3 separate regions of the Homo sapiens genome follow, and regions 1 and 2 are each linked to region 3. The links come from fine-mapping of genetic effects on gene expression. A gene starts in region 3. Each other region holds a variant in brackets. All regions are shown on one strand. Distances are from middle to middle.

Region 1 (10,299 bases), 170 kb before region 3:
GGGCGGCTGGGCAGAGACGCTCCTCACCTCCCAGACGGGGTCGCGGCCGGGCAGAGGTGCTCCTCACATCCCAGACAGGGCGGTGGGGCAAAGGCGCTCCCCACATCTCAGAAGATGGGCGGCCGGGCGGAGACACTCCTCACCTCCCAGATGGGATGGTGGCCGGGAAGAGGCGCTCCCCACTTCCTAGATGGGATGGCAGCCGGGCAGAGACGCTCCTCACTTTCCAGACTGGGCAGCCAGGCAGAGGGGCTCCTCACGTCCCAGACGATAGGCGGCCAGGCAGAGACGCTCCTCACTTCCCAGACGGGGTGGCGGCCGGGCAGAGGCTGCACTCTCGGCACTTTGGGAGGCCAAGGCAGGCGGCTGGGAGGTGGAGGTTGTAGGGAGCCGAGATCACGCCACTGCACTCCAGCCTGGGCACCATTGAGCACTCGATAAATACTTTTTTAAAAAATAAATCATTTTTAGTCCCAAGTATACTGACTCTACCTGAATAGGTTGGACTACTTATAGTTAGAAGTTATCAGTAATATCACCTTATATACTCAAGACCTTATGACTTGTTTTTATCCTTATTATTCACAGAGCAAATTGATGGTTAACCACTGTCACTAATTGCCAGAGCCCTTGCTCTCAGACATGTACATACCAGCCAATACAAAGGCAATTCTTGGCCTAACTTCAACCCAGCAGAGCAGCCACTTGCAATCACTAAGCAGACAGAGAATCAAATTGCCTCTACGTCTTATTAATACAAGTTGAGATGATCTAAAGGAAAGGAATTGGTGTAGGTGAGGACCTATCTCTTGAAGATTTGAAGAAGATTTATGGTGTGTGCTGTTGGCAAATTGTTGCTATATTTCCACAACAAACCTATCCTTTGGTGCTATGAATGTGTTTACAATGAAGATTAATGACAGAGTACACATTTTTAAATAACTTTCTGATGTTTTTGTATATAGAATGTATGGGAGCTTGCCATTCAATCTGGTCAGTAGCATTCTAAAATTATCTGAATGCATGCACCTGTGTTACACTACATTGGCTTAGATTATAGTCTTTTTCTTGTTCCCTACTATGTTTCTTCTGTCCTAAAAATCCTCTCAGATAGCCAACTGAGAGCTATTACCCAAACCGAAAACAGTCCTAGTTTCCAAATATACATCAAAGCCACTAAGTGACCCACACTGAGTTTTTCCTAAACACAAAATTGATTTATATCATATGCATGCCCAGCTGATTACTTGTAGGAGGATCATCCTTTCCACCTGACTCCAGGTGCCTGTTCTGCCATGTCATTCTCAATATGACATCTGTAGAAGTTAAATACTCCTCTCTTAGAGAAAAAGATCCACTACTTTATCCCAATTGCGTATTACTATTGACAGTGGAAAACTGTACTACAGTTGGAATCTCATTTTACCTAACTCACAATGACTGGAAAATAGGTTTGAGGGAAGATGACTCCATTTTTAGAGAATCTTAGATTATTCTGGTATTAAATTTGAAACAGTAATATTATAAATTCCCACTTCTAAAACTTCACTGAAGTTAATGAAAATTACCGATTTTCAGGGTAGTGCAGCTTCTTTGTGTCCCATATGGACATTACTCTTATACTTAGTACAGTTATTTAAAAATCAGAATTCTGTGGACACACTTATCTGTTTCTTTTCCTGAATATTTAAAAGTATAATAACTGCTTATGTGCTCAAATTAAGACTTATGTTAATCTTTAGCTTATTTTATTATTTTATTTTTACTTTGTTATTTGCTTTTATATTGTTTAATAATTCTTTATATGTCACCTATCAGTATCACTCACCATTCTTTTCATATCGCCTACCAGTGTCAATCTTCATTCTGTGATTACAAGTTTTAATAATACCTGTAGTCTTTGTAAGAGCCTATAAGGTAGGTACTATTGTAATTTTTATAGATGAGGAAACTGAAGAAACACAATGATAAGCTACCCACAGCTAGTAAGTTGTGGGGAATTTAATCATGTATGTAAAGAATAATTATCTTGGCCAGGTGCAGTGGCTCAAACCTGTACTCCCAGCACTTTGGGAGGCCAAAGTGGGTGGATCGCCTGAGCTCATGAGTTCAACACCATCCTGAGCAACATGGCGAAACCTTGTCTCTACAAAAAATACAAAAATAAGCCAGGTGTGGTGGTGTATGCCTGTAAGCCCAGCTACTTGGGAGGCTGAGGTGCGAGGATGGCTTAAGCCAAGGAGGTGGAGGTTGCATTGAGCCAAGATCATACCCCTGCAATCCAGCCTGGGTGACAGAGCCAGACCCTGTCTCAAAAATTAGATAAATAAATAAAAAGAATAACTATTTTTCTTGTAAATGTAGCAAAAGAAGGCAAAGTTTTCATGGACGTTTTCCTACTGCTTTACATCCTAATCACTTATAGATAGAACCTAGAATAACCAAATAAAGAATAAATTTAAAATTGCATGATATGAAATAAATGAGGCAGCCTTCTCTACAAGTTGAAATCATAATATTTTGCATGAATTGCCTAAAATATTTGCATTAGCTTTTTACAACTAAAAATGTACTAATCTTAGGTTGCTTATGTAAGTGTTAACCTTAAAAAGTTTATGTATGCGCTAATTTAAACCAACAGAAGGCATTCTCAGGCCACTTAAAATAATCTCAAGGCAATATATCAGGATATAAGTTAGGATATTTTACAAAATCCAAGACAGAACAAAGAATCAGGAGATGTAAGGACTTCTAGGATTTAGTATGAGTTCTGGCTTTTATTATGAGTTAGAGAGGAAGCCATTGAAGGATTTTGCCCAGTTATAGCAGTTAATCATCTTCCCTTGCCTTTATATATTTAAAACGTCAGGGATTGGCCCAACTTGAGGTAAACTTTGACTTGGAGATGCAAAGGATTTTGC[T/C]AGGGTCTGATCCTTCACTTGGCGCTTCTCAGTTCTGCTCGTCTGTGAGCAAATTACATCAACTCAACTAGAGTGAAGTTCTGTGGTAGCTTTGTGACCTAGGAAAAATTAATTGTGTGAATGACTGACACATTTCCAATCAAATTACTCTCATCATTTTCACTTCACTGTCTAAGAAATGATCTCCCTCTCTTTCCTCTTTCCTGTTGGGCTTGAAGCTGTGAAGAGGTAAGTTTGCTGCAATCAGCAGCCATCATGCTACTATATGAACCCTGTGACAGACAGATGCTCATCCATGAAATCAAGCATTCATTTCATTTCCATTTATTGCTATTTCTGCTTATTTGACTTTCTTTTAAACATACTTCCTTTACAGACACACACGTATGCCAGTAATAAAGTAGGCTACATGTATTCTCACTGATGTCCCATAAGAGACATAGAACATCTATGCAATAGTATTAAGGTTCTATATACTACATAATAGTAAGCAACAGTATTAAGGTTCTATTTGGTGGTTCTTGCTAGATTACCTTTCAATCCTCAACCAAGAAGATAGAATGTCATAATAGACTTTTTCCAGATACTGTCCATCTCCGGAGCTGGAGAAAGTAGACAGGTTAGCATTGAAAGAAGGAGGGCCTCACATTCCCATGAAAAGCGTGCATGGAGAAAGGTGGATACAATAGATACGTGAGTGTAGGGCAGAATGAGAAATCCTATATACTGAGTTGGAAAATATGAATGTCCATGCAAATTCAATACTTTTTATCTTATCATAATGAAAATATCGCTTCCTCAAAAAGAACTTTCCTGGTTACTCTCTAATGACTCATATTTCACAACCACTACCAACAACCACTCTCCAGCACATTAATTCTTACAGTTAGCTTCTAACAGCATATAAAAATGTTTTGATTGTTTTATGTTAATCTGTGTCCTGTCCCATAAAAGTTTAACCTACAAGAGGAAGGATATTATCTCTCTTATTCACCGCTATTTTCTTATATGCTTAAAACAATGTCTGCCCCATTGTAGATACTTTACAAATATATGCTGAATAAAATGATGAACTGACAAATATAAATAATATGTATATATGTACATATGTATATGTATTAATTAAAGCTTTTGAGGCTCCATATGTACCAGAGTACTAATTGCTCTATCTTTATTATACCAAGAAATTATCATAGGTCTATGGGCCAGACAATATTATTACTATTTTGCTGAAGAGAAATATGAAGCACAGATAAATTTTGTGGCATGTTCATAGCTACATAGGTAGTAAACAACAAAGATGGGATAGCAAGATGAAAACCCAGGGTTGTCTGATTAGAAAGTCCACATTATTTACCACCATACAGTACTGTCGACATCAACATTTAGTCTCTTTCCATCATATTGCATCTGAATAGAAAGGAGGTAGCACATGAAAGTATTGCTTCTAATTTTATTTTTGCTCTGCAATAAAAAAGCAAATGTAATTAACAAACATTAACAAATACCATATGTTGCACATTTCCATATGTGACACAGGATACACATTTGATTAAGATATAATTCTGCCCAGCAGAAGGTGGGGGAAGGGAGAGGAAGAAGAAAAAATAGAAAATATAAGTTGAATCTGATCCTTCATATGATTTTTACTCCATGTATACCTTTACTGAAATGATAGCTTGTGCACATGCAAGGACTGACTATACTATTCCAAGGTACTTTCTATGGGTGAAGGAAAGCAGAAGGAAAAGGATGGGGGAGAAGGGCATGAATCTCCACTTCATGAAGGAAAAAGCACTTTGGTCCCCAAATATGGCAGAAAAAAAGTCAAGTAAGTGAGAGGAATGTTATACAGGGGAGCAGAAGTATGTGTTTTGCATGGAGACCTCGTTTTAGCAATACCTTTTTGCCCTTCTGCTTCCAAATCTTATTTGCCAGTTTAATGCCTTTATATAAAGTCCTAATGATGAATGAAAACCTTTCAAGTGCTGCTGCCTCATTAAATGCATTATTTATTAATTTAACTTCTAGTACTCTCGATAAAGGGCCAATGAAATTAGTTGTTGAGTTCCAGGGGAAAAAATGAGAACAAAATTTTGAATATATACACACACACACATATATATATATATGTATATATATACGTATATATATATACACACACACACACACAGAGGTCATAATTGGATTCCATATAATAATGATATCAATATGTCTATCAGTATTGGAGTTGGATTCTGGTACTTTCTCATGTGGGGTTCTTGTGTTACAGTCAGCATAGATTTCTGGAGCATTCTTCTGTTAATCTTTTGGTGGCATCAAACTGTCTTAAGTGGTGTGGGAGATGCTATTTCTGCCATGTGAGAATTTGATGGTGTAATTAGCACAAACAATCAGAATGCCATAGGTGAGTCACCCAAATCACCTCAGAGTGCCCCTTTCCTGCCCACATAAAGTCATCATTATCAGAGTTTACTCTTTTCTTCTCTGATTCATTCTCAATATCAGTCATGTGGGGATTCTCAGTCATTCTTTAGATCAGGCTAGATTTAGGACACAACATTCAGTGATAGCTCTTGACCTGAGCTGCTGATGACCACTGCCCTGGTCTCGCAAGAGGATCAATCTTACATGTGGATGACAGTGCACAATATGATGGGTAAACCAAGGTATCATGAAAAATATGGGGCTCTTCTTCCAAACCAGGTTGTTCATGCTGATGACATCAACATACCCAAATCATGATTTGCTGGTTACAAATAAAGCATTGCAAAAACCACACTGGCCTGGAATAGCAGGGATCATCACAAAACTAAGAAAAGTTCTGGTTATTCTTCCACAAACTCAGTGCAACATTCGATTGGTAGGGCACGGTGGGGGACCAGGAAGAGATAGAGATTTAGCCAAGATATGCCCCAAAGCCACTGCTTTTCTGGACTCAAACCAGGGGATTAGGGAAACAACATTCCCCAGCTTCTATGCAAAGAGCCAAAGGGAACACAGACTTAAATATCATGACATGAAAGTTACTTCACTTGATGAAATTACAAAATCATTGGTAATTGCTGAGAATCTCTCACCTCTAGGGTTTTACAATGCAAAACCCCACCACTAGAGTTAATGCGCTATAGTCAATCTCTCTTCTATGAGGGAGGGTTGTCGGGGAGTGGGATATGGTATTGCCTGGGAATCCCTAAAGAAGACAGAGAGGCACAAAATGATGGAGAAGGGCACCAGAGAAACAATCTCCTCAAACTACAATTACTTTATTCTTTGGCTGACGGTTTTGTCTGCCTTTCAGACTTTGGGTAATGAAGCTAATGAGTAGCTGTTGGGGTTTTACTATCCATTTCCTCATTCTGGAACCCTCAATTCTAGGAGGATATCCCACCCCATTATTCTTAGAGCCTCTTTCTTGATTTCTTCTCTCCTTCCATTCCTCACTTTCCTCTCTCTGTGTAACTTTCTTTTGGCTTAACTGCCAGGAGCATCTGCTGCAGGTCTCAGGGTAAGAGAGTGGGCAGGTGGGCACAGACTGATAGAGAAGTCTGAGATCATGACATTCCTTCCGTATTCCAGGAAAAGTTGTTGTAATAGGATAATAGAATAAAACCAAGTACTTTTGGGGACCTCTTCATTGTGAAATATTTTCTTATCTGGATTCAGAGGTTATGCCCTTTGAGAAAGGAAGGGGAAAAAGAGCTTTTATTTAGCTCTTGTGCTAGGCAGAGTTCTAAGGTGACACTCACTGACCCCTTGTGATTCCCTTCTCTCAAGTGTGGATGAAACCTGTGTATAAGATGGGATACAAGTCCCGTATGTAGGACTGATTTGTTGACTTTCAGTTTATAAAAAAACTCATTATTCTGGATGGACCTCACCTCTTCATGTGAATGCTTTATGAGAGGATTAAAGCACTAGAGACTCTGGCTCTCCTGCTGGTCTCAAAGAAAAAGTACATTGTCATGAGTCCTCAACTTAAAGGAAATTAATTCCGCCACATTCACATGAAAGAGAATCAGAAGCTTTAGACAAGGCCACAGCCCCGGCCAACTCCCTGATGACAGAGTCATAAGATCCTGAACCAAGGACCCACATCCACTGGGCCCAGACTCTTGATCCATGGAAACTGAAATATAATGAATGTGTACTGTGTTAAGACTATAAGTTTGTTTAACTGATTATACAGCAATACAAAAGTAATACAGATACCTTCAAATGAAGGCCAATACTGACCTCACTGGGGCTACAACAAAGCACTTTACATCCAAAGGCAGAGAGGGCCACAGCAATGCAGAATTCCAGCACACTTAAGAGGAGCACCATGCCATCCGTACCCTAGGAGAAAACTCATAACAAGGGAATGTGAGAAATGGAGATGACAAGTGAAAACATTTCCCAGCAACCACAGTGTCATAAGAGAAAAAGCACTGGCTGGGAGTCAGGAAACCTGCCTCCCAATGGCAGCCATACCCTTGACCAATTCTTGATCTGCTGAAGTAGCTTCTCACTTTTTTCACTAATAAAATAATCACAGACATTTATTCCCTAGTTCAGCACCTCCCAGTGCTATTGTGGGCATGGAAGATGAAAGTGCTTTAAAATGTTAGGAAGGTAGTATAAAGATAATTGTCATCATATCCTATTGAGTACTAGAAACTCATATCATTGAAAAAATACTATGATTCCATATCTTCGTGATTGTAAGCAGAGTAATGGTCCCCCAGGGAGGTCTGCATCCTAGTCCCCTAATCCTCAGCTTCTGGGGATTTGAATGCAGACCTCCCTGGGGGGACCATTGTTCTTTTTGCACAACAAAAAGGATTAAATTTGCAGCTGAAATCAAGGTTGCTTATTAGCTGGAATGAGAGAATTTTCCTGGATTATTCAGGTGGGTTCAAAGTAATGACAGAATCCTTATAAGTGGAAGCAAGAGGCAGAATAGAGTTCAAGAGAGTTTTGAAGATGCTGCATTGCTTGATTTGAAGGTAGAGGATGGGATGACAAACCAAGAAAGGTAGGCAGCCTACAGAAGCCAGAAAAGGCAGTAAAACTTATTGTTGCCTAAGCCTTCAGAAAGGAGTACGGCCTTGCCCACACTGATTTTAGCCCAGTGAGACCCACTTTGAACTTCTGACCTCCAGAAACAGAAGATAACCAAACTGTATTGTCTTGAGACACTAAATGATTTTATATGGTTCTGCCTAATGATTTGTAGTAATTTGTTACAGTAACAATAAGAAGCTAATACAACAATGAACATCACGTAGGTCAGTCTTTAATCCATCTCCCCAGAGCACTGGCTTTAGGGCTAGTCTTCAGCCAAGAAACATAGTCAAAATTTGGAGAACAATTGGGCAGTACACTTATTTCTATTAATTTTACCCCGGACTGATGCAGGGATTATCTGGTTTAAATATTCTCTCTTTTTCTCTCCATGGTTAGGGATAGTCCCTCTGTTGCGGAAGAGCCAATAGACCAAGAGCTCAGGATATGAGTGAGGCAGACTTAAGGAGACCTTGAGAATATTTGCATTCATTGCTTTTTTATTTTCTTGTGCCTTCAACAGCTGTAGCGGCCTCTGTGTTTCAAACATTGTTGTAGGCACAGAATATAGAACAGCAAACAAAACAGACAATTCCCCTGTCTTCAAGGATTTTACCATCTAGAAGTGTAGACTAGAAGATGGCAAGCTTTCCGTAAAGGCCAGATAATGTACATTTTAGGTTTTGCAGACCGTAAGGTCTCTGGCACACACATTCAAACCTGTTATTATAACACAAAAGCAGCAATACACAATATGTAAATAAATGGGTTCGTTACATTTCAATAAAACTTTATTTACAAAAACAAATACAGGGCTGGACTTCCAAAAACATAGCATGTATATAGACCTGTGGACTGATTGTGCAGGTGCCCAGGCAAGAATAGACCCATTGCTTCAAATCCCAGGAAGCCCTTATGGAGGTCCCCTGCTATAAAAACAGGCATAAAAATGTTTACACAATTAACAGGAATTCATCATGGACTCTGGGAAAGGTGACTGAAATGAATGCAGGACCAGCTATGTAATTTATAGACTCTCTTATTAAAATTACATATATATCTTAGCTTGAGCTATACGAAACTGCTGTCTTTCTAGGTTAAGTATAGTTGATCATTGGCAATTTCATATGGTTCTGCCTAATGATTCCGGGTGGTAGACTCTAACTACTTTTTTCTAGAGCTCAACTTTTTCTGGCCTCTTTAATAATTATATGCTTTCCAGCATTTCTATCTTTTTCTTCCAGGAGAACCAAAGTTCCTTTGTGGTAGGGAACTGTTCTCTTTCTTATGTCTACCAGGGTGCCAACCCTGTGATGGGGCATACACTATGGGCTCATAGACCTGTGGACTGAATGTAAAGGTGCCCAGGCAAGAAGAGACTCATTGCTTCAAATTCCAGAAAGCTCTTATGGAAGTCCTCTGCTATTAGAACAGGCATAAAAATGTTCACACAGTTAATAGGAATTCATCATGACCTCTGGGAAAGGTGATTGAGATGAATGCAGAACCAGCTACGTAATTTACAGAGTGTCTTGTTTAAAATTTTTAAAAATAATTTCAAGATAGCAACAGCAGAGCATTAGACCAAGCACAGGGCTCTTCTAACTCTGAGGTCCTGAGTAACTGCACAGGTCCCATGCCCACGAAATCAGCCCTATGAACCTGGCCAATTCCAGATTTTGTCTCTATCATTGTGCCATTAAAGTCTATGAATGAAGAGAGCCTCATAAACTAAAAGTAAGGTTCTTCTTCGGGATAGCAATAGCAAATAAGAGGGAAATTAGAGACAAGAAGTTCTACAATTGAATCTTGCTTTTGCCAATTTCTAACTGAGTGACATTGGGAAAATTTGTCAAATTCTCAAAAGAAACTTTCTTTTCTTATCTTGAGTGAGTGGCAAGAAATAAAATTACTTACTATAAAAAGCATTAGATATCTCAAGGGAAGTAAATTAGTTTCGCAAAGACACCTCAAGCGGTTATTTTGGTGTGACTACGTAGCCCTCAAGACTATGTGGGATTAGCTAGAAATGAAGTAAACAGAATGCAGTTGATTCTGTCTAGTAAGTTAGGAAGAGTGTTGAGTTTCCACATACACATGAGGGAAGGGCACAGTGAGGAAAAGAACTAAGCAGCAAGGCGAAAGGCTGAAAGTTCATAGAGAGGAAAAGTAACTGAAAGTTTGGTGGTGTTGAAAATGACCAGTAGGCTTTTTAATAATAAAGATTTGGCTGGGCACAGTGGCTCACACCTGTAATCCCAGCAGTTTAGGAGGCCGAGGTGGGTGGATCACCTGAGGTCAGGAGTTCAAGACCAGGCTGGCCAACATGGAG
Region 2 (10,299 bases), 52 kb after region 3:
CCTTCCTTAAGGAGACCTGGTCTCCCCTTTCATTCAAGGAGTTCTTTCTGGGTTTGTAAATTTTATTGCAGGTCTGTAAACTGGCTCAGGTCTGGGAATGGATTGAGGGGCTATGAGTCTATATTTTTATGATTCAGGTTAGGCTTTCATTCAATGACCTAGAACTTTTCTGCTTATATAGATCAAGGGGTAATTTAAAAGGATTTCTGTCTATTTTACCTCTAGGAACACCATAATCAACTAGCCCACACCCACACCATAGGTCTGATTCAAATATTAATCTTATCCATACCCACCCTCACAGACACAGCCAAAATAATGTTTTAATTAAGTATTTGAGCAGTCTATGACCTGGTCAAGTTGACACATAAAGTTAACCATCGTATTTTGTTTATACTCACAGTCTTGGGGCCACAATCTGGAATGAGTCTTAGTCGAAATCACCTGCACAGATCAGAGGAGCTGCTGGGATGCAAATGTATACTAAGCAAGTACTCATTGAGATATAGCATTAGCAGGAACAAAAATGTATTATTTTAAAACATGGATCCAGAGATCTTCTCTGGAAAATAATAATCTATATTTATGCAACCTCTCACTTGTGGTTATCATGCCTAGAAAGGCATGCAGGCCCATCACATTTCTGAAAGGCTGTTACTGTTAGTGAACCACACAGACACAAAGAGTCCTGAGGAAAGTGCAGATCTCCTTTGCAGCCATAATATCCTCCATCAGTTCACAAGGTACTCTTTGGACATTTGGAAATTCTCATCTCTCACTCTGCTTCCCCCACTAACACATACACACATACACCTTTCTTTCCCTGTGGTCCCTGTGATTTTTTTTTTTTTTTTTACTTCTCTGACCTACCCTAGGATTCAAATGTGGAGTTTCTGGTCAGAGAGTTAAAGTTTTATGCATCACTGGAGAAAGCTTTAGTTGTCAAGGCAAAGCTCTGAAGCATCAAATTGAGTACATGGAATCTAAAGGTAAAGCAACTGGATCATAATTTTGACCCAGCACCATTACTAGTGGGATACTTTGGGAAAGTTTCTTAAAATTTCCGTGCCTAAGTTGAGTAGTACTCAGCACAGGGTTGTCAAGAAGATTGGATAATTAAAGAATGTATAGTGTTTAAAATATCTGTCACGGAGTAGATGCTCAATTTTGTTCCATAATAAAACATCTATAAAGCTAATTCTTTTACTAGTCGGTATTACTTCTTATGGCATAAACTTGATCTAATTTATGCCACCAAAGTATCTCTCTTTATTCTGAATTATACAAATTATCTCCCTGCTATTGAGTGAACTGCATCCCACTCTAAATTCATTTGTTGAAGTTCTAGCTCACAGTGTGATATCTGGAGACGGGCTTTTGAAGCTGTTGGGTTTAGATGAGGATATGAGAGTGAATCCCTCATGACGGGATTAGTGTCCTTATATGAAAAGACACCAGGCCTCTGTCTCCTGCTCTTTTTCTGTGTGTGTGTCCTTGTGTGTGTGCTCACATGCCTGTGTACACACAAAGGAAAGATGATGTGAGGACAGAAATAATACAGTCATCTGCAAGCCAAGAAGAGAGCTCTCATAAGGAACCAAGTTAGCTGACACTTTGATCTTGGAATTCGCAGCCTCCAAAAGTATGAGAAATAAATTTGTGCTGTTTAAATGAAGCAGTCATGGTAATTTACCATAGCACCCTAAGCAGAATAATATACACCTTTTCTTCTTGCAAATTGGGAAAGGGAGTGAAGGCATAAAAATCCCATCTGACCACAATGAAACAAAGAAACTTTTTGTTCTTTAAACATAAAATTCCTAGGTAGTCACAAAGGGAATATCTAATACCTATGTGTAAGTCCGAAATTAGTAATTAGAGTGTTTATGTCGGAAGATACAGTAGGAAATCCCTGTTGCTGCCTTTGTAGGTTCTGTAGAATGGTCTTCTAATCTTATTTTTAAAGTATGCTATATATGCAAGACTGTGCTACTACTACCTTAGAGGAGTGAAGAATCAGAATGAAAACCAGCAGGACAGTGCAGTGAGAAAAACAGTCATCACTTACAGAAGCCCAGACATGCAGAGAAAACTAAGAATTCAATAGATGCAGAAAATCAGAGCTTGAGACCACTCCACACGATAGAAGCCCCAGTGGTTCCCCTTCCCTCGTATTCGCTTGCTCCTTCCAAGAAATGTCTGGAGACATTAAGAGTGACACTGGGTTTTACCATTATTCATGGAATAAGATTTAAAGACACTATTATTATTTATAAACTTTAAAAACAAAAGAAAACTAGAGGATTTAGGGACTCCTAAGCGGGTGACATCTGGCCACAACAGTTGACTGCTCTAATTCTGCTCCCAGAGTTGTTCTCTCCAAAGTATGGATATGGATCTTTTTAAAGGAGGGCTTTAACAACAGAGAAAAATAAGAGAAACTTAAAAACAAAGAAAATTGACTTTCAGCTGCAGTAAGAGAAGAACGATAGAAAGAATACAGTGTTTTTCTTGGAACTTTCCAGCAAGGGAATCAGACGAGAGGCTGTGAGGAAAGGCCTAATCCCATTGACTATGGTTCAGAGAACTTGGATTCCTCAGATCATCATAACTTCTCTGGAATACTTAGCAATAAGAAGCTTGAAATTAAGGCTGAATTTCAGAACATTAATGAATACAAACATATTATATATTATTCCATAAACCACATTAAGACTAGAGTAATTTGCATTAAAAGAGTAGGTTTTGGCAGATTGGAAAATAAGAAGAAATATGAGGATATGGAAAATTTTTGAAGTAGTGAACAGATACATGTCATCAATGTATAAAGGGGCCTAGGGCATTTATTAGCAGGAGGCCATGGAGTTCCACAGCCACCCTGAAATGGAGAAATTGTAAAATAACGTCTGTACTGGGGCCGGGCACGGTGGCTCATGCCTGTAATCCCAGCACTTTGGGAGGCTGAGGCAGGCAGATCACAAGGTCAGGAGATCGAGACCAATCTGGCTAACACGGTGAAACCCTGTCTCTACTAAAAATACAAAAAAATTAGCCAGGCATGGTGGCGGGCACCTGTAATCCCAGCTACTCAGGAGGCTGAGGCAGGGGAATGGCGCAAACCCAGGAGGCAGAACTTTCAGTGAGCCGAGATCGCACCACTGCACTCCAGCCTGGGCAACAGAGCAAGACTCCATCTCAAAAAATAAAATAAAATAATGTCTGCACTGATTCAGTGTGACATTTCCAGTATTATAGCTAAGCTCATAGAAACACATTTAACCTATAAAGAATCAACAAAAAATGAACTTTGGAAAGAGTGCAAACATAAAGCAAGACAAAGTATCTGCTCACCATGCTAAAAATGGCAATAATAAGAGAAATAATACTTATTACTCTTATTTTTATTACTACTACAATTTACTTAGCATCTACTACACTCCAGGTACTTTAAAATTTACTCACAATAACTGTATAACAATTTTTATTCTCATAAAGGAAATGTAATATTTTAATAAATATGTAAATTAATAGATAACTTAGCCTAGACCCCATAAATAGTAAATAAAAGGGCTTGGGGTTCATTCTAGGTTTCTCTTCTCCAAAGAGTAAGTCTTCCACTGCATCACCAGATTGCATGAATTAAAGAATAATAAAAAACAAAGAACAATAAAAAATTAAAGTTATATTTCTGCCATTTGTCAGATAGCTATTATAACACTGTGCTAGTCATCATGCTTAGAGGGAGAAAAAACAAAAACTGGGGAAGGTATAGAGCAAAGTTAAAACCTGAGTAATTAGGGTGAAATGGTGTTTTATAAAAGTATGTTGCAACATAGTGTGCTTAACTTAGGGAATGCTAACACAACATCAGATGATGTTCATGAAGGATAATCACCATTATGATTCAACGTCCATAGAAAACTGAACAAGAGATGGATACGTTCAGAGAAAAGAAATTGTGAGGGAGGGGTGGCCTTTTAAAATATTCTAACTGGCAACTGGTAAGTGGCTAGAGGCTGTCACATCATGAGGTTCAATTAAGGAAGACCTGATCTCAATAGGAAACACCAGAAAATGACAAGGTACAGTTAAAAACAGACACAAATTGTTCCCTTCCCTTTCTTTCTTGTCCTTTCAAGATGAAAGTACAGATCCTCCCATGAAGACATTAGGGGGCCTATTTTCTTACCCCTCGAATCTGGGTTGTCTATGAAATTTGATTGGCCAATATGACATTAACACACATGACTCAGCAGAGGTTTGAAAAGTATTTGTGAATTGGAAGAGAACCAAGAGTCTGCCAACTGCCAGAGACATGACTGAGGCCATCCTAATTCATGTAATTGGACACTCCACCAGGTGACCACAGTTGCATGAGACAGCCTGGTAGAGAAGTGCTGAGCAGCCTTAGATGAGACAGACCACACACAGGACCCACAGATGTGTAAACAAAAGCCGATGGTGGTTGCTGGAACTAACTACATTTTGAGGGATTTGTTACACAGCTAAAGCTACTTAAATCAGGTGGCAAAACCACAAAGTGACAGGAAAAATGGATGTTATCTATACTTCAAGAAGTGGTTAATTTGTTCCGTGGCCTGAGAGATTTTGCGTTCTACCTGTGTCTGAAGATATGGAACTGGAATAAATGTGTATCTAGTTGCCATTTGGTAACTAAAATGTCCTTTTTTTTGAGACAGAGTCTTGCTCTGTTGCCCAGGCTGGAGTGCAGTGGTGCAATTTCAGCTCAAGGAAACCTCCGGCTCCTGGGTTCAAGTGATTCTCATGCCTCAGCCTCCCGAGTAGCTGGGACTACAGGCACGTGCCACCACACCCGGCTAATTTTTTATATTTTTAGTAGAGATGGGGTTTCACCATGTTGGCCAGGCTGGTCTCTAACTCCTGACCTCAGGTGATCCGCCCGCCTCAGCCTCCCAAAGTGCTGGGATTACAGGCGCGAGCCACCATGCGCGGTCCCTAAAATGTCTTTATATGTAGATCATCTAGTCCAATTTGGTCAATGTATATATGAGGAATCAGAAACCAGGAGAGGGGGATGTGACTTGCCAAAAGTCACAGTAAACTCCTAACTAAACCAGGACTACTTGTCAGGTTCTCTGATCCCCAGTCCCAGGCATTTTACTTATAGCCATCTTGGGATCTTGAGCAGTCCTGAGATTCTATGACTCTGTGACTCTATGGTTCTATAATTCCAAGACAAAGCAAACAATTCCAGTGCTCCAGGCAGCCTCAGCACAAGAAAAGAACATGGTCTAGACTGAAGTACCAACTAAATCATCTCCTTTCAAATTATCACCGACACCATCATGGATTCAAGCACCGCACACAGTCCGGTGTTTCTGGTATTTCCTCCAGAAATCACTGCTTCAGAATATGAGTCCACAGAACTTTCAGCCACGACCTTTTCAACTCAAAGCCCCTTGCAAAAATTATTTGCTAGAAAAATGAAAATCTTAGGGGTAAGTAAGACTTGCCCCTATGTATATTTTACTGAGGCAGGGGAAAGGCTAGGGAAATTATCTGTTGGCACATGTTTGAAGGTAGGAGCCTATTCCAATTCTTCTTTAAGACAATGTGAATATAGAGTGTTGGTGGGCCATTTGAGAGAGGATGTTTGAGAAGAACGAATCATGTGGGTCTGGACTTGACAAAAAATGCTATCATTTAGGACTCACCTACTTAAAAAGTGATAGTTGCTATGGCAGTAAATGAGATTACTCAGACTGAGAAGGTGGACTGAGAAGAAGAGAGCAGAGCACATAGACTCACACGTTTTTGTATATTGTATACCTTCCATTTTTGTATATTGTCCTCATTAGTCTTTCCCAGCACTTGTCAAACCACTGCTTGGTGTCACAGTGCATCACATGAGTGGCTCAGAGAGGGAGAGAAAAAAAAAAAAAACCCGAAGAGATGGAGAGTC[C/T]TCTGGGCCTGAGAGTGTGACAATACCTCAAGAGGCTCAGAGAATTGGCCATCTCCAGGCAGGGCTCCTCACAGTCCAATTCTGCTTGAGGCCAGCCTGGTATACTCATTTAGAATTCAGTGTTTCTCAGACATTCACATTTATGGGCTAAAGAACTGAAGAACTTATGAAGACACAGGTTTCCCAGCCTCACCTGGAGACCGTTCAGTAAGTATGGGATAGGGCCTGATAGTTCGCATTTCTAGCTCCCAAGTGATCCTGATGTTGCCAATCCATGGACCACATTTTCAGGAGCACTGATTTAGATCATTTTACCTATCACCAAATACCAGATAGAGGAATTAAGAAAGTACCCAGGAGCATCATAAAGGGACTTCTATTATTCTTCCCCTAATTACCAAAGAGAGTAATTGCCAAATCCTTTTGACCAAAAGAAGATATTCTAAACAGAAGGGAAACTATCACTTTGCTTTTCCTCACCATGACTTTTTCCTCTATTTGCAGACTATCCAGATCCTGTTTGGAATTATGACCTTTTCTTTTGGAGTTATCTTCCTTTTCACCTTGTTAAAACCATATCCAAGGTTTCCCTTTATATTTCTTTCAGGATATCCATTCTGGGGCTCTGTTTTGGTGAGTATAGTCAATCAAGTTCAATTTGAAGCCATGCCAACCAGGATGTTAGGGAATTCTTCACAATGAAATAAGCTAGATCCAGTTGTATGACATGCTTTCAAAAGTGCAAAAAACTAACCTTGTTGAAATTATTTCCCCATTAGTTCATCACAGTCACTGATATTCCATCATTAGGTCTTGAAGTTCCTTTGGGAATACTTCTTTTGAGGCTTGCAGTTGTTTATTTGGCTATTCATTCATTTGAAATTAGTTACTATTTATTATAAGCCAGATACACAGAGAAAGGCAATGGGCCTCTCCCCCAAAGACCTCTCAGTCTAGCAAGAAAACATGTAAACAGGTCACTTCAAGTCAGTGTGATAAATGTTATCACAGAGGTGCAGGAAATGCTTATGTAAGCAGAGATGAAGGAGCAATTTATTCTTTACAGAAGTGAAGTGGGAAGGGTTTCTCAGATATACCTTTTGAGCTGCGGAGAGGTATTTATTAAACCCAGTGTAGTCACAATCAATAAACATTAACTTAGGACCTAATTTAGTGCCAGAGAATGGGCAGAGCAATGGCTTCAGGGAAAAGAAAGCAGTGCCTGAGCTCAAGGTCTCAGTTGAGTGAGGAGTCAGACAATTAACACAGGGTGTGATGAGGGAGAATAAACACAGGGGCTGCCTCCATAGGAAAGGCATCAACAAAACAGAGGGGACAACGCCCAGAGACATTTCCAGCTTGACCAAGTTTTAAAGGGTGAATGGTTAATCAGGTGAGGACACACACACAGAAGATGGGAGTTGGGATACCCAAGTGTAAGGATTAGGGATGTCTTGTTGCATGCCAAGGGAGAAATATGAGCACAGGCTGAAGGTATGGGAGAGCATTTTCTATTATGTGAACTATAAGAGTTCAGCACAGGGAGTGAGGATGGAGAGATGAGGCTGGAAAATACCCATGAAGGGGCTGGAAATTTAAACATGGAAGTGCTGTAATCAGATTTGAAATTTCCACTAGACAACAATGCTACCACGTGTGACCCACTTCCAAGAAAAATCTTGGAGATTTTAAGAACTACCAGCACATTCACTGCAACCCCACCTTATGTTCCCATCCAAGAGAACACACTGGATTGCAGTAAGATGGAATCCAATCTTAATGATTATAAACTGACTTGAAATCCCTTTGTCATGAGATCAAAGCTGAGTCCACAATAGCTATAAAAAGAACATGGATGAGTAAACCAAAGCCCTGTACGGTTAAAAAAAATGTTCATGTTCAAATAAATAGTTAGGGCTAAAGGAGATTTCCAGACCAGTGTTTTGTCCACTATTCCATTTGTGGAAAGTCATATAAAGCAACTCACCCTTCTCACTGCCCTGAGGAGTGTGTGAACTTAGAAGGCGGGCCTGTAAAAGAAATGCATAGAGGTCTATTCTGTAAGAACTCAACATCAGCTAAACATGGTCATCATTAACATATTTATTCCTCTTAACAGTTCATTAATTCTGGAGCCTTCCTAATTGCAGTGAAAAGAAAAACCACAGAAACTCTGGTGAGTTATATTCTTACTTTATTAAAAATATATTTTGTAGCCAGTCATGGTGGCTCATACCTGTAATCCCAGCACTTTGGGAGGCCAAGACGGGTGGATCATGAGGTCAGGAGTTCAAGACCAGCCTGGCCAACATGGTGAAACCCCATCTCTACTAAAAATACAAAATTAGCCAGGTGTGGTGGCACACACCTGTAGTCCCAGCTACTCAGGAGGCTGAGGCAGGAGAATTGCTTGTACCTGGGAGGTGGAGGTTGCAAGGAGCCGAGATCGTGCCTGGGCAACGGAAAAGACTCCATCTCAAAAAAAAAAAACAAAAAAAAGTAATGAGTTACATTTTCACTATTTCCACTTTATTAAAAATATATAACTTTCAAATAATTTATCCTGGCCTTGAAAAAAATTTGTAAAATCATTAGGTCACCATAATTCCACAAACTATCAAGTATTAATACCAATAAACAGCATTTGCTTCCTGTTTTCCTAGAATTATAACCCATTATGCTAGAGGAGAAAGTTTCTCTAGGTCATCTAGTTTAGCTCTTATTTTATGTATGAAGACACTGAGGCTTACAATCGTTAAATAGCTTGTCCAAATTCCCAGCCAATTAATGGTAGAATTATTTCAACATTCCAGTTACTTATTCATTCTTTTTTGTTTTCTGGGTATTTACGGCATACCAGGCACTTTGACAGGCACTACTTTGACTCATACGAAAGGCAAACTGTAGACAATCTAATTAAACCATAAACAGAATCTCAAAATAAAGAATACAGTGCTACTGAATGTAAAGTTATAGATAAATTATAAGTAGAATATTTTTACTTTACTCAAAGAATTGAAGACATAAGATATTACTATGCCAACAAAAGATTTTAGCAAAGGACTGAAAATCCTTAGTTTGTCATTTTAGGGAGAAATTAAAAATGGCAGAGAAGTGCAGCATTCAGTTAAACTTAGGAGTCTTAAAATAAAAATGTAAACAGACCATGACTTTCACCAGAAAATCAAAATGCAATTGTTACAGGCACACCCTTCCTCCCAACTGAATAAGAGTTAACTTAGGCATAGAATATGGGGAATGGAAAGGTTACTAAAAGTTCACAAGATCCCCTTATTGTGTAGATGAAGGCCTGAAGCCCAAAGATGTGAAGCAATTCGCACAGGATCACAGAGCTGCCTCGTGGCATTAAGATGCTGTGACTAAAATCCTGCTCTCCATTCTCCGCACTCATTGCTTTGTTTGTAGTACAGGCTGGACCTCAGTCACATTGTTATGTTCTTATTCTATTTCAGATAATATTGAGCCGAATAATGAATTTTCTTAGTGCCCTGGGAGCAATAGCTGGAATCATTCTCCTCACATTTGGTTTCATCCTAGATCAAAACTACATTTGTGGTTATTCTCACCAAAATAGTCAGTGTAAGGCTGTTACTGTCCTGTTCTTGGTAAGTATGTTGCATTTATAGAGTGATGAGTAAAGGGCTTAATAGAAAATATTTATTAGCACTCAATCAGCACCATTCAGATCATGTTGTGGACACATGTATTTTCTTTTACTGACAAACATTTATGAAATCCATAATATTTGATAGACATTACACCAGGCATTGTGGAAGAGAAAAATAAACACATTATAACTCCCACCTTTAGGAATTCACAGGAGCACAAGAGATAAAACATACACAAATCAGTATGATACAAATATAAATCTAAAAAAAAAAGGTACAGCAGTATGGCTGTAGTTTATAGCCCTATATGTACATTAGAATCACAGTGGTGTGTTTTTACAGTTCTTGATTTGGTTTTAACAGGCTGAACTTCCGATAAAGCATGATAAGATTGAAAAGGGGCATTTATTTTAGCTGCCTTCAAAATACCACTAAGATTAGTGTAAAAGAATGTAAAAGGTTTGATCCACATGGAGAGAAAAAGAGAGTTACCAAACACACACAAAAATTGCTGAGGAAATTGAAAACCCACCATCTAAGGCAAAGCAGGGGGAAGTCATATTAGAAGATATTTCTTACAGCAGAGCCTAAGAAATACTTAATATTTGAATGCACCAGGTCCACAGAAAGCAGGACTAAAGAGCAGAAAATAGGGAGACTGATTTTGGTAATGGTTAAGTATGGCTATGTGGATTAACTCTTCTCTGAAAACAGAAGTCTTTTTAT
Region 3 (10,299 bases):
CACAATCCCAGTGTCTTCTAAACCCCAGTTTAAAAGACAGTTATCTGACCTCTCTCCAAGTTTATTACAGACTAAAGAATCACAGTTGCCTGTAAATATGTCTATGTTTGAGGAATTGAATGACTATCACTAAGAGATGGGATTCGAATTTATTGGAGCTTCCAAGAGTCTTTACAAGAATGGCAAGAATGTTGCAGGGGCCCAGGGCCGGGCACGGTGGCTCATGCCTGTAATCCAGCACTTTGGGAGGCTGAGGCGGACGTATCACGAGGTCAAGAGATCGAGACCATTCTGGCCAACATGGTGAAACCCCGTCTCTACCAAAAATACAAAAAATTAGCTGAGCGTAGTGGCATGCACCTGTAGTCCCAGTTCAGGAGGCTGGAGCAGGAGAATCACTTGAACTCGGGAGGCAGAGGTTGCAGTGAGTCGAGGAGCCAAGATCATACCACTGCACTCCAGCCTGGCGACAGAGTGAGACTCCGTCTCAAAAAAAAAAAAAAAAAAAAAAAAAAGAACATTGCAGGGGCCAAGGGTATAGCTTCCCTTTTGCCCTCTGAAGTTTCGCTGAAAAGTCAACTTGTAAAAGTCAGATTAATTGAGAAAAGGCATACAAATTATTCAACACATAGACATGAGGGCCTTCAGAATGAAGACCCAAAAAATATAGGGGAAAGTATCCATTTGTATGCTTAGGTTCAACGAAGTAAGGACAGCCCTGTAGAAATATGACTGGATATAATCTATGCTAATAGGCTTAGTTAGAACCGAGCAAGACCCGTCTGTCTAGGTTTTTCTTGGCCTCTCTGTGCTGCATTCCTTCATTTTGGTTGTAGGACAGGACCATCTCTGGAATGGGCATCTTATGACCTACAGTCAAACAAGATAGCTCAGATGATTTCTTTATGACCAGTTTTACACAGATAGAGTGGAAGGAGAGTTAGAGTAACACTTTTAGGTTTTAAGGCTGGCTGTGGCAAGAGGGGTGTCTGGTTTCTATGACCCACCTTGGGGAGGGATTCTTGTTTGTACAGCTAGCCTCAAAGGAAGATAGGACTGAGAGACAGGAAAGGAAGTCAGAGAAAAACTTTTGCTTCTGAGGTATTGTTTTGGGGTATTGTTTTCTGAGCCCCTAAATACATAATAGGTATCTTTGTCTTTGCCCTTTTTATTGTTCTTTTCCTCCTTTTTTCTCTTATGTGCCACTGTCACCATTCTCAGGTGGGCTTTCGAGAATGAATGTGCAAAATTCATGATTAGGGTCAACCACATCTCCATAGCTATGGGCCTTACAAGCATTAACTGTCTATCATTTGCATCTTCAGACTGATATTCAGAACAGTTTCAGGATTCTCACACTAGCCTAGAGAACAATTTTTTAAATAATTCCATCAACATATTGATATGGGAGAGGGGCAGGGAAGTGCTAAGTAGAGAAGGGCAGGGTCCCTGGCGAGGTTCCACCCTCGGCCTTTGCCCACAAACCCAGGTGAGGACAGGCACTCCTGTTTTCATGCCAAATGTTGCATTTCCAAGCCAGCCATGCCCCTCCTCCTGTGCCTATAAAAACCCTGATACCCTAGTGGGTATACACACACAAGTGGCTGGATGTCAAGAGGAACACACTGGCAGAAGAACACACCAACAGTTGCTGGCAGACCATCGATGGCAGAACAAAGCAGATACCAAAGGAAATTCAGCTGAGGGTGGTTGGAGGAGAGCCAGGCTGCTGAGCAGCCCTACTCCAGAGAAGACCACCTTCCCACTCCATCCCCGTTCTGGCTCCCTGTCCATCTGTTGATAACTACTATCACCACTCAATAAAACCTTGCACTCACTCTCCAAGCCCACATATGATCTGATTTTTCTGGGACACTTGGGCAAGAACCCTGGGATACAGAAAGCCCTCTGTCCTTGCGATAAGGTAGAGGGTCTAACTGAGCTCATTAAAGCAAGGTGCCTGCGGACGGCTAAGCTGAAAGAGCACATTGTAACATACACCCATTTGGGCTTCGGGAGCTGTAAACACTCAACCCTAGATGCTGCCATGGAGTCGGAGCCCACGCTCCCCATGACCTGCCCGTCTGCATGCTTCCCTTAGGGGTTTGAGCTGCGGGGCACCAAAGAAGTGAGCCACACCCCCATCACGCACCCTGCAAGGGGGATAAGGGAAAACTCCCCTCGTTTCAATATGTTAAAGCTTATTCACCCCATGAGAGCCATTTGGTTGGTAGGCTATTAATTATTGCCTCAATTTCAGAGCCTGTTATTGGTCTATTCAGGGATTCAACTTCTTCCTGGTTTAGTCTTGGGAGGGTGCATGTGTCCAGGAATTTATCCATTTCTTCTAGATTTTCTAGTTTATTTGTGTAGAGGTGTTTATAGTATTTTCTGATGGTAGTTTGTATTTCTGTGGGATTGGTGGTGATATTCCCTTTATCATTTTTTATTGCTTCTATTTGATTCTTCTCTCTTTTCTTCTTTATTAGTCTTGCTAGCAGTCTATCAATTTTGTTGATCTTTTCAGAAAACCAGCTCCTGGATTCATTAATTTTTTGAAGAGTTTTTTGTGTCTCTATCTCCTTCAGTTCTGCTCTGATCTTAGTTATTTCTTGCCTTCTGCTAGCTTTTGAATGTGTTTGCTCTTGCTTCTCTAGTTCTTTTAATTGTGATGTTAGGGTGTCAATTTTAGATCTTTCCTGCTTTCTCTTGTGGGTATTTAGTGCTATAAATTTCCCTCTACACACTGCTTTAAATGTGTCCCAGAGATTCTGGTATGTTGTGTCTTTGTTCTCGTTGGTTTCAAAGAACATCTTTATTTCTGCCTTCATTTCTTTATGTACGCAGTAGTCATTCAGGAGCAGGTTGTTCAGTTTCCATGTAGTTGAGTGGTTTTGAGTCAGTTTCTTAATCCTGAGTAAAATGCTATTCTTAACATCAGTTCTGTTCCATTGGTCTATTCACCTTGTTACTAGGCTTATTACTAGGACTATGTAGTATGCTTCCTCACTGTTCTATTTGAACATTCTAGGAGAATGAAAACACCATAGAGGAAGGTGGTTTTTTCTGTTCTGTCCATTGATGCAATCCAAGCACCTAGAACACAGCCTGGCACAGAAGAAGCACTCAAACTGTGGTATTTCAATGAAAAGTGAGGAATATTTTTCATGTGGAATTTTTTAAAGGAATGTTGTGCCCTACACCTTTTCAGTAAGGAGATTTTCTGTGAAGTACTACGCGAGGCCTGCTGTGTGCATGGCGAGATCAGCAGAGGCAGAGACCAAGAGAGGCAGAAACCTGGCAGAGCTGCTGAGGATGGTGTAGAAAGAGACTCCCCCATGCTTAGTCATCCCATCATGCCCATTGTCATGTGTAGCCTCCAGTTATACAAAGCTAGAGATGCTCAGCCTCATCCCCATTTGAGATAATTGCATTCTTTTGCCCTATTCATCATCACTGAATGGTGAGTCCCAGCAATTCTGATATCAAGAGCACCAGGAAATAACCATTTGTTTGTATTTCACTTGGAAGGTAGGGTCTCACACCAGGTTTGGGGATTTACTGTTCAAGTCCAGATGACCAGTAAAGCAAGTTCCTGGAAGTAATAATATAGCAGTTAAGAGCACAGTCCCAGCCAGGCACAGTGGCTCACGCCTGTAATCCCAGCACTTTGGGAGGCTGAGGCGAGCAGATCACGAGGTCAGGAGTCGAGACCATCCTGGCTAACACAGTGAAACCCCGTCTCTACTAAAAATATAAAAAATTAAACAGGCGTTGTGGCGGGCGCCTGTAGTCCCGGCTACTTGGGAGGCTGAGGCAGGAGGATGGCGTGACCCCGGGAGGCGGAGCTTGCAGTGAGCAGAGATCCCGCCACTGCACCCCAGCCTGAGTAACAGAGCAAGACTCCGTCAAAAAAAAAAAAAAAAAAAACGATCACAGAGCACAGTCCCTGAATTAAGATTACCTGGATTCAAATCTAGACTTCATTACTTTCTAGGGTGTGTGACAGGGTAAGTTACTTAACCTCTCTGTAATTTAGGTTATCAGCCAAAAGACAGAAACCTTCTGTTATTTTAGCAGAGAATACTTGCTAGAAAGAGTCATTACCTGTGTATTAAAGAACTGCAAAGGCATAAAGAAAACACTGAAATAATACAGACATAGAAACTGCATGAATCAGCCACAGCCCAGTCACTACTAACTCCCTAAGCAATCCCTGGCCTTTAGTTTCCCCACCTGTAAAATGCTGAAGTTGGGGGGAAAAATCGTTTCACTTTCATTCCGGTGGCGTGATACGAGATTCTAAGAAACAGGGAGAAAATTCCGTGAGTGGAGCCAATAACCAAGTCAAACATCAGGGGGGTCTATGAACACTGCTCCAAGGAATCTCTCTCTGGATAACCAGACCTTGTGCCCTAGCCCCAGCCCGTCATCTCCACTGCTAGAGAAAAAAAATACAGTTAGTCTGTCCAAGGCTGTTAGAGTCCTCCAACATATAAGACGCATTTCCATTTTACTAGCTTCATGGTCTGCTTGGGGTGGGGATGGCGGGGAGATCGTATCCTTGAAGTAGGCACTAGGACTGTGAGTCACTTGCCTGTCTAGAGCACCAGGACTGTTTGCAAAGGGCTGAGGAGATTTCCATCAATGGAAAAGAGCATGAATTTAGAGTAAACATAGATTACACTTAGAGATCAGAGATCAATCTAGAGATAAAATACACTTTTCTCTAAAGGGGGTGGGAGAAGATGTTGGACAAGAAATACCAGATTTTCTTAATGGTTCATTTATGTCAGGCTCTATGGTGGGGACTTTTATGTTATTTGACTTAATCCTCACAACAATTCTGAAAAATCTTTTTTCAAATTTTATGAGAAAGTGAACTGGATATTTAACTGATTTTCTCACGAATTCCTTCTGAGGCTCAGAAGTGTGAAAGAAGCCCAAATGACCAAGGTTCTTTAACAATTTGGTCAAAACAGGTCATAGACCCAGAGGAAGGTCTGGATCCTGGAAGTTTTCTTAAGCAAAGACAGTGCTTGTTGTGGATATGAAGATGTTGACTAAGCTGGGCACAGTGGCTCACACCTGTAATCCCAGCTTTGGGAGGCCAAGGCAGGTGGATCACCTGAGATCAGGAGTTCGAGACCAGCCTGACCAACATGGTGAAATCCTGTCTCTAGTAAAAATACAAAAATTAGACAGGCATGGTGGTGGGCACCCATAGTCCCAGCTACTGGGGAGGCTGAGGCAGGAGAATCACTTGAACCTGGGAGGTGGAGGTTACAGTGAGCTGAGACTGCACCATTGCACTCCAGCCTGAGCAACAAGAGCAAAAAACTCCATCTCAAAAAAAAAAAAAGATGTTGACCAAATGGCAGACTCTTGCCATGAAGCAAGCCCAGACCTCAGTGCCAAGAGATGTGAATTAGATTCCTGCCTCTTCCACAGACTAGACATGTGACTGGGGGCAGATTCCTTCAGCAATATCACCTCATTTGGAGAAGAACTGGACTAAAATACCCTCCAAGTAGTTTATGAGTTATTTAAATCTCCCAGGCTTAGGTTTGCTCCTCTCTTAGGGGATAGCCTTGCCACCCTTCAGGAAATGGAGACTGTATATGGAGCATGTTGTGCCGCCAGCTGCTGCATGTCCCAGAGCCATCTTAAACCCTACCCTTCTGAACAATGGCTAGTCTACAAGAAGCCTTAAAAGGGATGTGAAAGTGGCAACAGTGTCCCCTCAACAACAAATACTTCCCCAAATATGAGCTTGTGTGGAGCCTGATGACTCTGCCTCTGAGGCCAATCCACTGGCATCTTTCCCAAGATGTGCCTGGACTTCCCTGAGCATGAGGCCAAAGATGGAGAATGGAAACACCCAAAAGAAGTAACAAGGAGACACGGAATTTTCCACAGGTTGCTTTCAGCTTACCAAGAGCCTGGAAAGTGAGAGAATAGATTCTCCAAAATTCAAAACTAACATTACTATTATCAATATTTATTGTCTACTTTTTGTAAACTCTTTGCATCTTTTTTCTTTAATTCTCCCAACACCCACAGAGTGGAATTATTATTATCCATCCACCATTTATTTAATAGACAAGAAAACTCAGGCTAAGCAAAACTAGATGACTTAAATAATTCTATGTAGGAGTAGGGAAAATGAATTTTAACTGGGACCGTACAAATCACTAGTCTGCACAAAGGTCTTTTTCTCATGTGTCACTTCTATCTTGTGTCATTTTGCCAGACCTCAGAATTTAGAAAGAGGAAGCAGAGGCACTTTTTATATATCAACTGTCTGTAACTACAGCAAAATTCACATCCTGTGTAATCATAAATACTGCTCTAAGAAAGGGACAGGAAGTCTCAGAGGCTGGAGAGCAGAGCACCAAGATCGTTCTGGCAGGAACAGCCAGTGGGAGGTTCCAGCTGAGCGCTCCCCAGAGGTGAGCTGATCCCCAGCCACAGCACACAGGACCAGGCTGCGAGAACAGGTAGACACCTTGGTTTAGATCATGACTTTTGGGGAAGATTGTGTGCTTTTGAAAAGACAGCCAGGGAATTGGATTATCATCCTGTCTCTGATTCTGACCACCTGTGTGAGTTGGAGCGTCAGCTCAGTCCCCTTTTTGGGTCTCAGTTTACTCACTTGTCAAATAAGAAAATTGGGTAAAACCATTCTTAGGTTTCCCTCATTGAGGTGATTTTCCTCAATGTTCTGCATTCTCCTGGTGTGTCACTCAGTCTTACAGAGTCTACTCTCAACAAATACTGTGCAATTAGACTGAATCTTGCATTAGAACCCCATGGTCCTACTCTAATTCTGTAATACAGAAAATTGCTGGGCAGAGCTGTTGACCTCCATGTCATGATTTATCTTCAAAGCACGGATTTTAGAGCTGTCTTGAAAGCTGTGGGTCCCTCCAGTCTATCTCCTCAAGGCGAATGTGGAAGGACAAAGCATCCTCTCAGACTGTGGTGTTTGGAGATGATAGCATCAGTCTGGAGACTTTTGTGAAACATAAAGAATCTTGGTTATATAGGATTCCTTCTAAAAGTAGCAACGTGTATCTAAATTCAAGTGTCATAGATTTAAATGTAATAATTCCACTTCCATACATCACTGTGAGATAATTAAATGCAGGAGGTATCACAAAAGTGCAAAGATGTTCATTATTGCATTGTTCATAGTGGCAAAAAGAAAAAATAGAAACCACCTAAATAGTCATGAACATGTGATTGATTAAATGAATCTAGAGACCTCCATTTATTTAAATATACCATTTGGCTTTTTGGTTGTAGTAAAATATGCTTAAAATAATTGTAGCCTTTTAACCATGTGTTTTTTTGTTGTTTTTTGTTTGTTTGTTTGTTTGTTTTTTAATTGAGAAAGAGTTTTGCTCAGTCACCCAGGCTAGAGTGCGTGATCTCGGCTTACTGCAACCACTGTCTTCCAGGTTCAAGCGATTCTCCCATCTCAGCCTCCTGAGTAGCTGGGATTACAGGCACTCACCATCATGCCTGGCTAATTTTTGTATTTTTTTAGTAGAGACGGGGTTTCACCATGTTGGCCACGCTGGTCTTGAATTCCTGACCTCAGGTGATCTGCCCGCCTCGGCCTCCCAAAGTGCTAGGATTACAGGCATGAGCCGCTGCACCCAGCCTTAACCATTTTTAGGTGTACAGTTCAGTGGCATTAAGCACATTCACACCATTGTGCAACCATCACCACCACCCAACTCCAGAACTTTCTTGTCTTCCCAAACTGGAACTCCGTGCCCATTAAACAATAGCTTTCCATTCCCCTCTCCCGCCAGCCCCTGGCAACCACCATTCTACTTTCAGTGAATTTGACTCTTCTAGGTGCCTCACATAAGTAGAATCATACAATATTTGTCCTTTTGTGACTGGATTATTTCACTTGCCATATTGTCTTCAAGGTTCATCCATGTTGTGCCATGTATCAGAATCTATCATTTGCTTTTAAATTTAGGCTTTTTATTATTTCTATTCATCGGTCAAAGATGTCTACAGAATAATGTTGAGTACAAAAAGAACAGTTATAAAATGGCATGGATAGAATGACTATTTCCGTAGAATTGTGAATGTCTGTGAACATATATAAAGAGGAGAGAGATAAAGTGACAGATGGGAAGAGAGAATGTAAAGAATATGTGCATAGGAAACAAGAGTGATCGGGTGGCAGTTGAAAGTTAAGGAGCTAATTTGTTTTCTTCTTCAAACTGTATTCCCTTGTAATGGTGGTACTTTATGCACTCTTTCAAACAGAACAAACAGTTAAGAAATAACAAAGGAAAATAAATGTTCATGGTATCAGATAGGCTATAGCCTGAAAGTATCAATTAAACTTTCGAGTCCTAGCTTCAGGCTGAGAATCAAGCATTTTCTGCAGTCCTTAGGTATGAGATTCGAAAAATAAAGAAAGGAACCCAGAACTCAGGAGGCTGGTGACGAAGACTAGTAGGAAGGAGTCTAGTTGGTATATTTGGGCTATTGAGCCACACAGAGCAAGGTAAAAGCCAAGTTTCTACAACATGAAAGCAAGTTGGGAAAAAGAAATCTTCAACCTATATTCCCTAAGATCAGCAATGTCCCTGGGAGAGGATATGGAACTGATGAGTGGCAGCCAATGCTTCAACAATAGGGGAGGAAGAATAGAGAGGATGAGAATCAGTTGTAGCTAGCCGGGCAAGAACAAACCTACAGGGATATAGAAGAGCTCTGGTGTTAGATGGCCTGTGCCCAAATCTTGCCTCCACTACCTGCTAGATAAGCAATCTTGCACAAGCTATTTCACCTCTCCAAGCCTCATTTTTCTTATCTTCAAAGTTCAGCACCCATCTCTGAGACTGCAGATTAAATGAGACTGTCACAAAGCTCTTAATAGAATGCCACATTCATAGTACGTGCCCAATCAATGTTAGCAATGATTATCATTTTATCATGAACTACTGTTTGATTCTGGAACCTAGAATTTCTCTAAGCCTGACACTTTTTCTCCTTCTCTGGCTTTAAAGATGTGCTGGAAGGCTCACCCTGACTCCACTGCAGGGATTCAGCTTCAACATTATTCCCCTCATAGGACATGTAACCTCACCCACACTTCTACCCAGATTTCAAAATTCCAAGAAATGAAAACTATCTCCTTAAACAAAGAGAACTTTAGGTTTAATAATTCTTCAGATAAAGTATCTCATGCCCGGAGAGCATGAGAAACTAGACTAAGGCACAGATCTAGGAGTAGAAATAAAATGGAGGTCCAAACATGGATCGACTATTATGGAACACCTGATAAAACTCAGAGAGTTACAACAAAAGACACTCACGTGTGTCATTCAAATCCTCACAAGAGTCCTTCAGGATAGTGTCATTATCCTTATTTTACAGATAAGGAAACTGGGGATGAATGAGGGAAAGTATCCTGCCTACGGCCAGCTCATCAATATCAGAACTGGGCTTCCAATGAATATTAGATAAAACTGATATGTTTTGGGAGTTTATCACATGCCTCCCCCTATGCTGAGTCCATTATATGTGTCATCTTATCCAACCTGTACCACAAACCTATGAAGTGGTGAAAATACCTTGCCCAGGGTGAGTTTAGCAGTAACTGGTGGATATGGGATCTGAACACACGACTGGACTCCAAGACATATGGTCAGATGTGCAACTAGATGCCTAGGCATTGGACTCCCATCCCAGTGCACTTTTCCATCTCCCTCACTAGGAAGAGATTCTAGGTGTCATTTCCAATTTTTACATGTTCTTCACTCCACCCAAGAGAGGCCAGAACCATTCCTAAAGCACCAACACATTGAGGCAAAATGTCAGGCAGCAGAGCTGTGGCACCTTTCAAGGATGACAAGCCTTTAACTAAACTCTGGCCTTCAGTAGGGAGAATGTTGAGCTGAAAACAAATCTGGGCAACATTTCAGGTGCTGAGCCTTGTTGCTGACACCACAGAGGCCCAGCAATGCTGCTGAGTTAGTGGTGGCAGACAACTTGCTCCTGGAATCTACAAGGGAACTGGAAATGTTAGGAAGGAAGAAAGGAAGGAAGAGGAAGAGGAGGAGAATTAACATGGCATAGAGAAAAAAATATCACAAGCGTCTGAGCCAGACAAGTCTCAATCCAGTCATGTAAACACAGGCTGTTAATATTTGCTACCATATATTGAACACATTCTAAGTGCCAGGCTAAGTACTTTATGTGACTATTTCATTCAATAAAAGTCACTTGAGCTTATTAGCCCCAGGTTTCTAATGTATAAAA

The links.
Region 1: its variant is fine-mapped to the expression of MS4A7 in lung (TOPMed, PIP above 0.99).
Region 2: its variant is fine-mapped to the expression of MS4A7 in whole blood (TOPMed, PIP above 0.99).

What each region holds. Positions count from the first base shown.
Region 1 is chr11:60,201,436-60,211,734 of GRCh38, forward strand. MS4A4E (membrane spanning 4-domains A4E) reads right to left here. Exons shown (of 9, transcript NM_001393391.1): 6 at 7,158-7,259; 7 at 4,279-4,385; 8 at 3,455-3,523; 9 at 1-444. The coding sequence ends at 108. It overlaps MIR6503 (microRNA 6503), which reads right to left and starts at 7,721; the gene lies at 7,636-7,721. RefSeq lists an enhancer at 1-534. The variant T/C (reference allele first, on the strand shown) is at 2,922.
Region 2 is chr11:60,424,348-60,434,646 of GRCh38, forward strand. It overlaps MS4A5 (membrane spanning 4-domains A5), which reads left to right and starts at 5,225. Exons shown (of 5, transcript NM_023945.3): 1 at 5,225-5,480; 2 at 6,449-6,577; 3 at 8,064-8,120; 4 at 9,418-9,570. The coding sequence starts at 5,328. The variant C/T (reference allele first, on the strand shown) is at 5,945.
Region 3 is chr11:60,372,165-60,382,463 of GRCh38, forward strand. It overlaps MS4A7 (membrane spanning 4-domains A7), which reads left to right and starts at 6,368. Exons shown (of 7, transcript NM_021201.5): 1 at 6,368-6,500. RefSeq lists enhancers at 5,400-5,639, 6,320-6,369.